Homo sapiens: one gene and its partners. The protein of the gene in region 3 interacts with the protein of the main gene of each other region in a pairwise test. Each region holds a gene or a part of one and is shown on either strand. Other genes may lie near its edges.

Region 1 (3,600 bases), on a different chromosome or scaffold from region 3:
GCAAGACTCCGTCTCAAAAAAAAAAAAGAAGAAGGAGAAGGAGAAGGAGAAGGAGAAGAAGAAGAAGAAGAAGAAGAAGAAGAAGAAGAAGAAGAAGAAGAAGAGGAAGAAGAAGAAGAAGAAAAGATTAGCTGGGCATGGTGGCACGTGCCTGTAGTCCTGTAGTCCCAGCTACTAAGGAGGCTGAGGCAGGAGAATCACTTGAGCCTGGGAGGTGGAGGTTGCAGTGAGCCGAGATCGTGCCACTACACTCCAGCCTAGTGATAGAGCGACACTCCGTCTCAAAACAAAACAAAAACAACCCCCCTCCCCCCACCAAAAAAAACATATATATAAGAGAGAAGAGAGAGTGAAATTCCTCTTCTGAAACTGGGAAAGTTCCAGGAGGAAGATAAGGTTTGAGCTGGGCTTTGGAAGGAGGAAAGAGAAGAGGAGAAAGAACATTGGATTTGCAGACAGAAAATGGGGTTCCCCTCTTGGCTACTTGGCTTACTAGCCGTGGGAATTCAGACAAGTCACTTAGCTTCTCTAAGTATCAATTACTTCATCTGCAAAACCTCGTGTGTCACTGCCAAAGTGAGGACCAAGTGAGATTAAATAAGTGAAAGTTGTTTGTAAACTGTAAAGCATTATGCAGACATCTTGGACTATTATTAAAAGCTTAAGAATGGGTAGGACTTTGACAACAGGCATTTGGGGAGAAGGGCCTCTGGGCAGAGAGAATGAAAGGCGAAGTGATTGATTGATATGTATGTAGTGACTGATTGAGACAGGGTCTCCCTCCGTTGCCCAGGCTGGGGTGCAGTGTCATGATCATGGCTCATAGCAGCCCTGAACTCCTGGACTCAATCAATCCTCCTGCTTCAGCCTCCACAGTAGGTGGGACCACAGGCACTTGCCACCATGCTGGCCAATTACAAAAATTTTTTTAGAGGTGGATTCTCCTTATGTTGCCCAGACTGGTCTCAAACTCCTAGGCTCAAGCTATCCTCCCACCTGGACCTCCCAAAGTGCTGGAATTACAGGCAGGAGCCACCGCGCCTGGCGAGAAGTGATTTTTGTTAAGAGGCTAGACAAAAGGAAACTGGGCTTTGAAGATGAAATGAATGAATAACTCGCAGCACATGCTTCCTTCTCTCCCTAGATGGCCCCTTTGCAGGCAGTCAGGGACCATGTCTCGTTCATCTTAGTTTCCAGGAGCTTGACACTTTGTAGTTGAGGGCTTTGTGCTCCATTCTCAAGAAACGACAAGTGCCCAAAGGCTATTAAACTTGGGACCTCTTTACCCCCAAAAGTAGTACAGAATAAGAGTTGGGTGGCCTTGAAAAGCACCTTCTTCTGTCCACACTGGGTCGCCCGCTGGGTAACCTCCCAAACCTATGAGAGCTCACCTTATCCCAGGTAAGGTCCTTACTTTAAGGAAGAGGAGGGGGGCCAAGGGCTCCAGCAGACCTGTTCTACACGGGGTAGGGGGGTGGGTGGGAACTATACAGGTGACAACATTTCATAGAACTACACACACACTCACACACACGCACATGACTGCATACCCAACAGGTTAAATCCGAGTGTGGTCTGTAATGAAGTTAATTGTATTGGTTTAGTTAATTGTATTGGTTTAGTTAATTGTATTGTGCGAATGTCAATTTCCTGGCTTTGAGAATGTTGTATCTTAAGAAAAATGTTGAGGTAAGCTGGGTGGGTGATGGTATAGGGAACCTGTATGTATTAATTTTGCAACTTCTTGTGAGTCCATAATTATTTCGAAGTAAAAAGTAAAACAAAAGAAAACAATGGAACTTCCCCCTCAGCCCAGCCTACTTCGAGACCGCCTCACACTCACACATCTGGCCTCACCCAGGTCCAGCCAGCCCTAGGCAGGGGGTGAAGGGAGGGGCAGGGCGGGGCCACGCAAGCGCAGTTCCGCAATCCCGGCCGCTCCGGGAAGTCGCGCATGCGTAGTCTCGGCCCCGGGCTGCCGCGCCAGCCCGTCTCCGCGGCGGGGGACCGGGCTGCCTTGGCCCCTCAGCGCTCGCGTCTTTTCCGGCAGTTGGAACGCTTCCTGTTGTCCTCACCCGTAACCGCCTGTTGCCCCCTGTCTCAGAGTCCCTCACGCGTCCCCTCCCGTCTTTGGCTCGTTGGCTGCCGCCGCCGGGGCTTCGCCAGCCTTCAAGTCGAGACTACTGGCCGAAGGGGCGTCTGCGGCTCTCCGCCGTCCCCAGCCCTGCCTCTCCCTGGGCTCTGGTGAGTTGCTTGCTGCCGCCGTCTTCACTCCATCCCGGGGTTTTTCCTTTATCTCCTCCTTCCCCAACCTCCGACTCCTTCTTGGGCTTTCTCCTGCTCGCCGGCGCCCTCTTTCAAGCCCTAACCTCTCAGCCTCTTGGCCTCTCTCCGCCCCTCTCCTTAACCCCCTTCTTCCCCCGTCTCCAGATGCCCCTTGTTGGCCCTCTCCACATTTTTCCAGTCCCAGCCTTTCCACCCCATCCTTTATCTTTCTCCTTTTGCAGTTGGAGCGGGAGCCAGGCTTTCCTTTCCATGTTGCCACCTTTGTCTGCTCCCTGCCACCAGTCAGTCCCTCAGGGATCTCGGTCATCACCGGTTTTTATCTCCTTTTCCTTCTTCTGGGGTCTGTGAACTGTGGTCTGAGGCAGAGATGTCGAAAGCCCCCCTTGGGGTGTGGTATCTTTGAGTCGGCTCCTTTCTCCGTTAGTCTTAGGATACTGGGCTTCAGATAAGCTTCAAATCACAGGAAAAGGCAGGGAAAATTCTTAAGAAGAGAGTGGAAAAGCAACAGCCAGAGGAAAAAGTCGGTAAGGGCTTAGAGGAAAGTCTGTGTCAGAAAGCGGGCAGAACGGCCGGCAGAGAGACCAGATCTCTCAGTTCATTCTGAAACGACTAAAAGACTCGGAGAGAAACTTGTTCTGTTTGAAATGCACCGAGGAGGGTTGGAGTGAAGTAGACCCTGAGTGTCTCCACCCTTTGAGCTCACCCTGCCTCTGAATTAGCCAGGCAATATATTTGGTTTCCCTAAACATAAAACAACCACCACCTCGATAACAGGCTCTCCTCCCCACCCTAAACGTTAGATACCAGCTTCCTCCTAAGAGGAGAGAACGCTATAGCAAACCATTTCATGTCCCAGCCCTATCCCCCATCACACATAAACTCCTAGGAATGGACATCAAAAATGAGTATATTTCCTAGTTAATCTTTCTTAAGGTGCTAAGTGCATAGCACTGTGCATGAAATGGGGGAAGAATATTAAAACAAGTATAAGACATGGTGCTTGCTTTCTAGTGTAGGTAGAGATTACAGTTTAGTAGGATTTACAGTTCAGTGGGAGAGATTAGACATGCGACTTAAGCAATAATCTTAGCTCCAATGTTGAATCGTCCAAATGAAAGATAATGGATTGTCAGTCGCAAAGAAATAAAGTCCATATTGTTGAGAGAGGGTTGTTTATAGTGATCACAGAGTACCATTGTAAAGTCAGTCAGTTAGCCAGGCATAACCATATAGATTGAATCACATAATGGTTTTCATTTGACTTCCTTTTGAGTTTGCAGGCCTTACACCTGACTTTTATGAGGATCAGTTCCT
Region 2 (3,825 bases), on a different chromosome or scaffold from region 3:
TGGGGCTACAATGAAACATTCTCATTTCCTATTTCAGGTGAGGGAATTGAGGTCATGAGATGTACCAGACACAGGCAAGCTAGTAAACACATATCAAAACCTAAAACTATGGAGAAACGGCCACAAGAAAGAGGGCTCATTAAATTTTACTAATCTGTCACAAACAGAGAAAACCATGGATAATACATGAGAAGATAAAAACATACTAGGAAAGACAGATACATTTTAATATTCAGTTTAAAAGTTAAAAGACAGTGACTTGGGCAGGGCAATTCCAAACCAAAATATCATAGTACCCTCGAACATACTGATGTTCAGAAGTCTAAAAAATATGCCCTGTTCAAGTAGGTCTTCTCCAGGGCATAAAGATTAAGAGTAAATGAACCATTCCCTGCTTTGTGACTGAACGGGGTTAATTTCTGTCTTAGCTCTAGAGACAATGCTAATGTGTAGATGGTAGGGGATGGAGCACTTTAATAGAAAGAAGCACCGTCCTCTTAAATCCAACACCGGATGGCTAAAGTAGGAGATGATGTGCTAACTAATCTTACACAATTGGAAGGAGCACGACAATGTCCTGGTCAAACTACACTAGGGCAGTTACAGCTGCTTCATCCAAACCCCTACAAATTGTGCATTTTCTTCTAGTCCTAACATGTGGTGTGTTCTCACGGAAGGCTACTTCAGTAGTAGGGGAACCTGATATGTTGTAATTTCTAAAGCCTTTAGTATAAGATACAATGCAAGTAAAAGGTCATTTATGTTTATAAATACCCTTTTTCTATAACCTTCTAAGCTCAGGCAGAGGGACAGATGCAACAAATGTTTCTATAGCAACTAATTTTCATATAAATATGCCAACCTTTGCATACAAGTCTCTACAATATGTGTTAATTCTGGGCAATGGGCTGCCCTTTCTCGACCACATTCCCTAGCCCAGGTGTTCTCCTGAGATCAGCGGGTGTTCATGAGACCGAGGCTGAGGTCAGAAGTGTGGATTCTGGAAAGAGCTATCCTCCTCTGTCTGATTCCTCTGATTCAGTAAACTTCATCTAATAAACCCAAGATTTAGGCAGGCAATATGAGGGCCATTCTAACCACCTATGCGAATCAGTTTAGATGATGAAAAAGTGTCCTTCTCAAATAGAAACACTCACTTTTGAACCCATTCTACATAAAAGCTAAGGTAATTTATCTGATATTTCATAGGCGGTATGAAATTATTTCTGGAAAGAAAAAGTATACTCTGGGTCTTCAGTCTTGTAAAACCACAATCACCATGAAAATAAGCATGAGGGCATTTCTGTTTCTTGTTATATGTCCACAATCTCATAGGCTGCCAGCTCAACCCATCCGTCTTTGAAGTCACTTTTGTGGCAGAGAAGCTTCTCATGTAGGAAAGATGCAGAGTATCATGAGTCGGCCTGGAGTCTTTTCTTGTTATTCATTGAGGTTTCAGCTTACAGCTGGTCTGGCTCAGAAGCAACTGGCTGAAAGGCTTCAAATGCCGTCAGTTTGGTTCAGATTTATTTTTGCCCCAGAAGCCATGCAAGGTCCAGACTGCTCAGTCCATAAGCCTAACAAAGGAGTACTCTTTGGGTTCCAGCACACGCTTCTACTGCAGAAAGAAGCAGGTTCTTTAAGCTTCCTAAAACAGCAACAGAAAGGAAGCTTTAGAAATAATGTCTTACAAGTTAAATCTGCTAAATTTCAATGGTAAAGAATTATTATGCATAACTTTTACTAGTAGTATACATGGATATAATAATAGCATATGGACAAGAAACTCATTCAATAGTATCCAAATATCCAGCTACCCATGTAATCTCAGGATAAAATAAATATTTTCATAACAATTCGTAGTCACCCAATAACTGCAGAGTACTTAAAAGATGATACCGTAACCCATAGCAATCATAATGTATTAACAACAATTCTTTTGTGGGCTTTCAACCTTATTCAAACATTTAAAGCTTCTTTCTTCTATACTGTGTTCCTTTAAAGCATTTGTAGGTAAATATTTTAGGATTCTGTATTTCCTTTCTTTCAAAGAACAAAGATGAATGAATAGTACCATTCTTTATCTGCCAACTTAGTCTTTGAATGTACTTCCATTAAACTATTAGAGAATGTTCAGAAATAGTTGGGAATAAGATTTCTCTTATAACAATCTCCCTAGCATACTCACAGTCCTTATCGGGAGAATATCCTCAGCAAAGTGTAGCCATTAGACGTGTCCTCATCACAAAGGGCACTGACGTCAATGCCGGGAAGGGGACAAGTGAAACCACTGAACATTAATTTCATGTATTAACCCTTCACTAACTTACCACTAATTTGGCATTGGTGACATACCAGGTTAAGTGTATGCAAAAAAATTATTCCTAGGTCTAAGGAGATTATTTAGAAGTAAAATCTTATGAAACACTTCCAATAACAGGAGATAGTTTTATCAAATATGTTGATTAACTGACATGATTATAATAACTACATGAACCCTTCTGTGGGAGGCAAATTATCCTCATTTTGCCAATAAGGAAAAAGTAGACATTTCAATAGATTGAAACACTAGAACCCAGGGTCCTCTCATATGTTTTCTAACCTTCTTTCTGTCTGTTCCTGTTGACATTTTAAATGTTGCATTAAAAACAACTTCAAGATATGCTTTTCCTGTAGGTAAACAGGCTGGCTTTGTTCTCTCAAATATCTCAGCAAAAAATGTTCCAAATATCTCAGTTTTGTTCCCTTCTGGAGAGATGTGTATAGGAAAAACTTGATTAAAATTGAGTCATACAAACTAAAGAAGGCTCTCACACCTATTTGCTTTATCTGGAACCATAACTATCATCAGATTATGGGTCATCTTAAATCACCCACAAGAAAACTAGTGTGTGGAAATGCAGGTTGTGTAAACAAATGCATCATGCGCTGAAATCATGGCCTTACACCACGTAAAGACAGAAGTGCTGTTTGGCCACAGCTGCTCCTTTTCCACCTCCCAGATGGACACATGTTGTTTTCCTGAGCTATGAACGAGCCCACATCATGGAGCCAAGCTAATTGAACACAAACCTGTGGAATGGATAAAATTAACAAGAAGCCCTGTGCTTTGGTTCATAATAGTGAGCTGCTGAAATCAAATTATTTTATTTTATTTTTTAAGAGACAGGGTCTTGCTTTGTTGCCCAGGCTGGAGTGCAGCGGCGTGATCCTAGCTCACTGCAGCCTCAAGCCTCAAACTCCTGGGCTCAAGTCATCTTCCTGCCTCAGCCTAAAATCAAATTCTTTATGAGATGTGAATGTGTCCTCTAGTTGGAAAATTAGCCTGTTGGGGGAAATGTGGGTTGGAATTTAGATTGGGAAAGAAAAACAGAAGCAAAACTACTTGAGTTAAACACTTGGTTGGACCTTGAAATAAAGAGGAGGACCAGGCCCCCAAAGGCCTGAAGTAGCTTAAGGTTCATTTGCTACATTTCACAGATTAGTAAGTGCAACTAAAGTTTTTTTTTTTTCCAGCATCTGGAAATGATTATCTCGTAAAATGGGCTCAAAATATTATTCACTATTATAGGGGAAAAATCAAAATGGTTTATATTTTAACGCTTCCTTTTTTAAATTCAATGTCATACTTAGATTTACCTAAATTAATCTAACAATTATAGGGCTACACATCTTGAAAAGTTAGTAAAAACCTTTCATTAATAAATTATTATACTGTGCAACTTGAGTGTAATATTTTCTCATCAGGTTCAGTTTAGATATAATTGTAACTTTCTTTTCATAATGATTTGAGTTGAAAGTGTATATAAATCATGAGAACTACCT
Region 3 (3,825 bases):
AACAAACAAAAAATAAAGTGTGTATTTTTTGACCTAATTAATAAAAGTTCCCATGTAATAAAATTTTCCAAAAACAGTCTTTCAAGTTTTTAAAGATATATGTATAAGGAAGTTCATTTCAGTGATATTTGTAAAAGGAAAACAATGAACAAAACAGAGTACATCAAGAGGCTTGTTGAATAAATGATGGTGCATCTAGAGAAGTCATTAAAATGTTGAAGACTTTTTTTATTTTGCTTTATTTTTGTAGAGATAGGGTCTCACTCTGTCGCCCAGGCTGGAGTGCAGTGGCACAATCACGGCTCACTGCAGCCTCAAACTCCCAGGCTCAAGTGATCCTCCTGCCTCAGCCTTGGTAGTAGCTGTGACTACCGGCACATCCCTCCATACCGGGCTAATTTTTGTATTTTGTTGTAGAGATGGGGTTTCACCATGTTGTCCCGGCTGGTCTCAAACTCCTGGACTCAAGTGATCCTCCTGCCTCAGCCTCCCAAAGTGCTAGGATTAGAGGCCTCAGCAACCGCACCTGGCCTGACGACCTATTTTTGATATGACTATTTTATAATGGTAGGATATAATGCAATCTTTTGGTGAATAAACAACAAAATCATCTATACTCATATTATTTTTAAATAGGAAAGATATACCCTAAATGATTACTGACGTTTATAACAAAGTAGTGGGATAGAAGGGGATTTCTACTTCTTTGGGTTTTTTTCTTTGATTTTCTACAATGAACTCGTATTATTTCCTAGTAAGAATGTAAATCAAGAGACAACTTTTTATTCCATGGGAGGAATTATCAATGTCAAGAGTCAAAACAGATAAGAACTGTTAAATAGTGCTTATTGGCTGGGCGCGGTGGCTTATTGCCTGTAATCCCAGCAGTTTGGGAGGCTGAGGCAGGCGAATCATGAGGTCAGGAGTTCGAGACCAGCCTGGCCAACATGGTGAAACTCTGTCTCTACTAAAAATACAAAAATTAGCTGGGCGCGGTGCCGCCTGCCTGTAATCCCAGCTACTCGGGAGGCTGAGACAGGAGAATTGCTTGAACCCGGGAGGCAGAGGTTGCAGTGAGCTGAGATCACGCCACTGCACTCCAGCCTGGGCGACAGAGCAAGACTCCGTCTCAAAAAAAAAAAAAAAAAATAGTGCTTATCATATTCAGCAAAAAGCAAGCAGCTTGTGGTCACAGTAAGAGCAGTTTTGGTATGAATAAATATGGTTTAAAATTGTTTTTCAAAAAACAAACATAAAAAACCAAAACCCAAACATTTCTCAGGAATTTTGTGAGGACGAATTTTGTGTGTGGAGAAAACGGACAAATACATTTCCCCATATATTTAAATGCTCAAAAGTTCACTCAGGTGCTCTCACCAGGCAATTACTATGACAAGTGATCACGTGCGAAAATACAGAGAATCTGGCTCGTTTTAAAGTGCAGGAGAAAAGCAAGGCCTTACTGTTTCTGAATTTGCTGTGTGTGTGTGTGTGTGTGTGTGTGTGTGTGTGTGTGTGTATGAGAAGATGGGATCTGGCTCTGAAGCGCAGACAGGAGTGCAGTGGCAAGATCGTAGCTCACCGCGGCCTCAAACTCCTAGATTCAAGAAGTGATCGGCCGGGCGTGGTGGTTCACGCCTGTAATCCCAGCACTTTGAGAGGCCGAGGTCAGGAGATCAAGATCATCGTGGCTAACACGGTGAAATCCCGTCTCTACTAAAAATACAAAAAATTAGCCGGGCGTGGTGGCGGGCGCCTGTAGTCACAGCTACTCGGGAGGCTGAAGCAGGAGAATGGCGTGAACCCGGGAGGCGCAGCTTGCAGTGAGCCGAGATCACGCCACTGCACTCCAGCCTGGTCAACACAGAGAGACTCCGTCTCAAAAAAAAAAAAAAAAAAAAGTGATCCTCCCGCCCCAGCCTCCGGAGTAGCTAGGACTACAAGCATGCACCACTGTGTCTGGCTTTTTTCTTTTTTTCTTTTTTTTTAAGTTTTCTGTAAAGACGGGGTCTTGCTACCTTGTCCAGGATGGTCTCAAACTCCTGGGCTCAAGCGATCTTCCTGCTTTGGCCTCCCAAAGTGCTGGGAATACAGGCATGAGCCACCGCGACAGGCCATGTTGCTGAATTTGGAAAGTGGAGCAAAGAATCATGCAAAAAATTAAGAAAACCAAAACGCAACCAAGGCGAATTCAATTGCATTTTTTTTTCCCAGCGACACTTTCTGAGACACGAACCTCTCTCTTCGGCGAACCTATTCCAGGGCGCCCTTCATTTTCATTTCTTGAAACAACAGCCTTGCAGGCCGAGCCGCTGTTCCCGAGAACTCGGCAGCCACAGGGAGCAGGTTGCATGGACCCAGGAGCGCGAGAGGCCCTGCTCTGCCAGCTTCGGCCAATCAGAGGCCAGGGAGCGGTGGGCGTGACGTGGGGCGGTGCGCGGGGCTGGGCGGCGGCTGAGGCGCGTGCTCTCGCGTGGTCGCTGGGTCTGCGTCTTCCCGAGCCAGTGTGCTGAGCTCTCCGCGTCGCCTCTGTCGCCCGCGCCTGGCCTACCGCGGCACTCCCGGCTGCACGCTCTGCTTGGCCTCGCCATGCCGGTGGACCTCAGCAAGTGGTCCGGGCCCTTGAGCCTGCAAGAAGTGGACGAGCAGCCGCAGCACCCGCTGCATGTCACCTACGCCGGGGCGGCGGTGGACGAGCTGGGCAAAGTGCTGACGCCCACCCAGGTACACCGGGCGGCGGGCGTGCAGCGAGCGGCACGGCGCGGAGGCCTGTGCCGGCCTCCTGGGTGGGACCCAGCGGAGACAGGGCCAGGGGCGGTGGGGAGGTTCAGCCTGCGTGTGTCGAGGCCCCCCCAGGCCAGAGGTCCCGGGGTCCATGTCCCATGCCTGGGGGCCACCCCGAGCACCGGGAACCCGGCCTGTGGCGTGGCCAGGCAGGTTCGGCCTGCGGCAGAAATTCATTCACTTTTCCCGGGCTTCAGACCCAAGAGGGACCTAGGTTCGGAAACAGGCCGGATCCCCCTCTCCCCCCACAGGCCAGGGCGCTGGAGAGGGACGTCGCCGGGACAGAGTAGGCTGTGGCTGCCCGGACGCCCCCAGAGCTTCCCCTAGGGCCTCAGCATTTTAGGCCTGGTTTTGGAGGGCTGAAGCCTCACCCGAGAGCCTGTGACGCATTATGTAACTGGCGATGAGCGCGCCGGCCGATTTCTCCTTTGTTAAATGGGTCGAGAGCGTCCAGCCGGTACGCTGGAGGGCAACGGTTTAGTTTTGGTCTTTGACCTCCCACGCCCACGGCTGGGGCTGCCGAAAGTGAAGAAACTAGATTTGCAGACGCCACTGCTAGTTGGTTATGAAGCTCCGGGCAACAGCGTAAAATAAACTGCCCCGACCTTACATTGTTTTGGATGTTCACAGAATTTAATTTTTTTGGATGTTTAAATATGTAGTGCCCATCTAACACAGCCTCCCTTTTCCTGCTCCCTGCCCGCCTCTCATCACCTTGGCTTTCTCCTTTTCTTTGCACTTTGAAACGTACAGTTAATGCAGATTTCACTTCAGCAGGCTCCAGGTAACCTCCTGATCACCAAATCCAGAAACGCTGTGATTCCGGACAGACAATGTAAGGGTGTCGTTGAGAGGGGACTCAGTGCCAGGGTTGGAATCCCAGCCTTATCTGTTTCTCTTAATAGTGTGCTGGGATACTAGCCCCATGGTGTTGTTGGGACTGAAATAATATACAGCCTGGGCAACATAGCAAGACCCCAACTCTACAAAAAAAAATTGGCCAGGTGTGATGGTGTGAGCATGTAGTTCCCAGCTGCTCAG

The links.
Region 1: the proteins of PEBP1 (region 3) and STK38 interact in binary tests that used the Homo sapiens proteins (3 or more experiments, as listed by UniProt).
Region 2: the proteins of PEBP1 (region 3) and TNFRSF19 interact in binary tests that used the Homo sapiens proteins (3 or more experiments, as listed by UniProt).

What each region holds. Positions count from the first base shown.
Region 1 is NC_000006.12:36,545,834-36,549,433, reverse strand, and holds the start of STK38 (serine/threonine-protein kinase 38), read left to right. Parts: upstream 1-1,954; 5' UTR 1,955-2,244; intron 2,245-3,600. UniProt on the Homo sapiens protein: Serine/threonine-protein kinase that acts as a negative regulator of MAP3K1/2 signaling. Converts MAP3K2 from its phosphorylated form to its non-phosphorylated form and inhibits autophosphorylation of MAP3K2.
Region 2 is NC_000013.11:23,671,195-23,675,019, reverse strand, and holds part of TNFRSF19 (tumor necrosis factor receptor superfamily member 19 isoform 2 precursor), read right to left. Parts: intron 1,649-3,825; coding exon 1,640-1,648; coding exon of another isoform or gene 1,501-1,639; 3' UTR 1-1,500. UniProt on the Homo sapiens protein: Can mediate activation of JNK and NF-kappa-B. May promote caspase-independent cell death.
Region 3 is NC_000012.12:118,133,621-118,137,445, forward strand, and holds the start of PEBP1 (phosphatidylethanolamine-binding protein 1), read left to right. Parts: upstream 1-2,503; 5' UTR 2,504-2,589; coding exon 2,590-2,724; intron 2,725-3,825.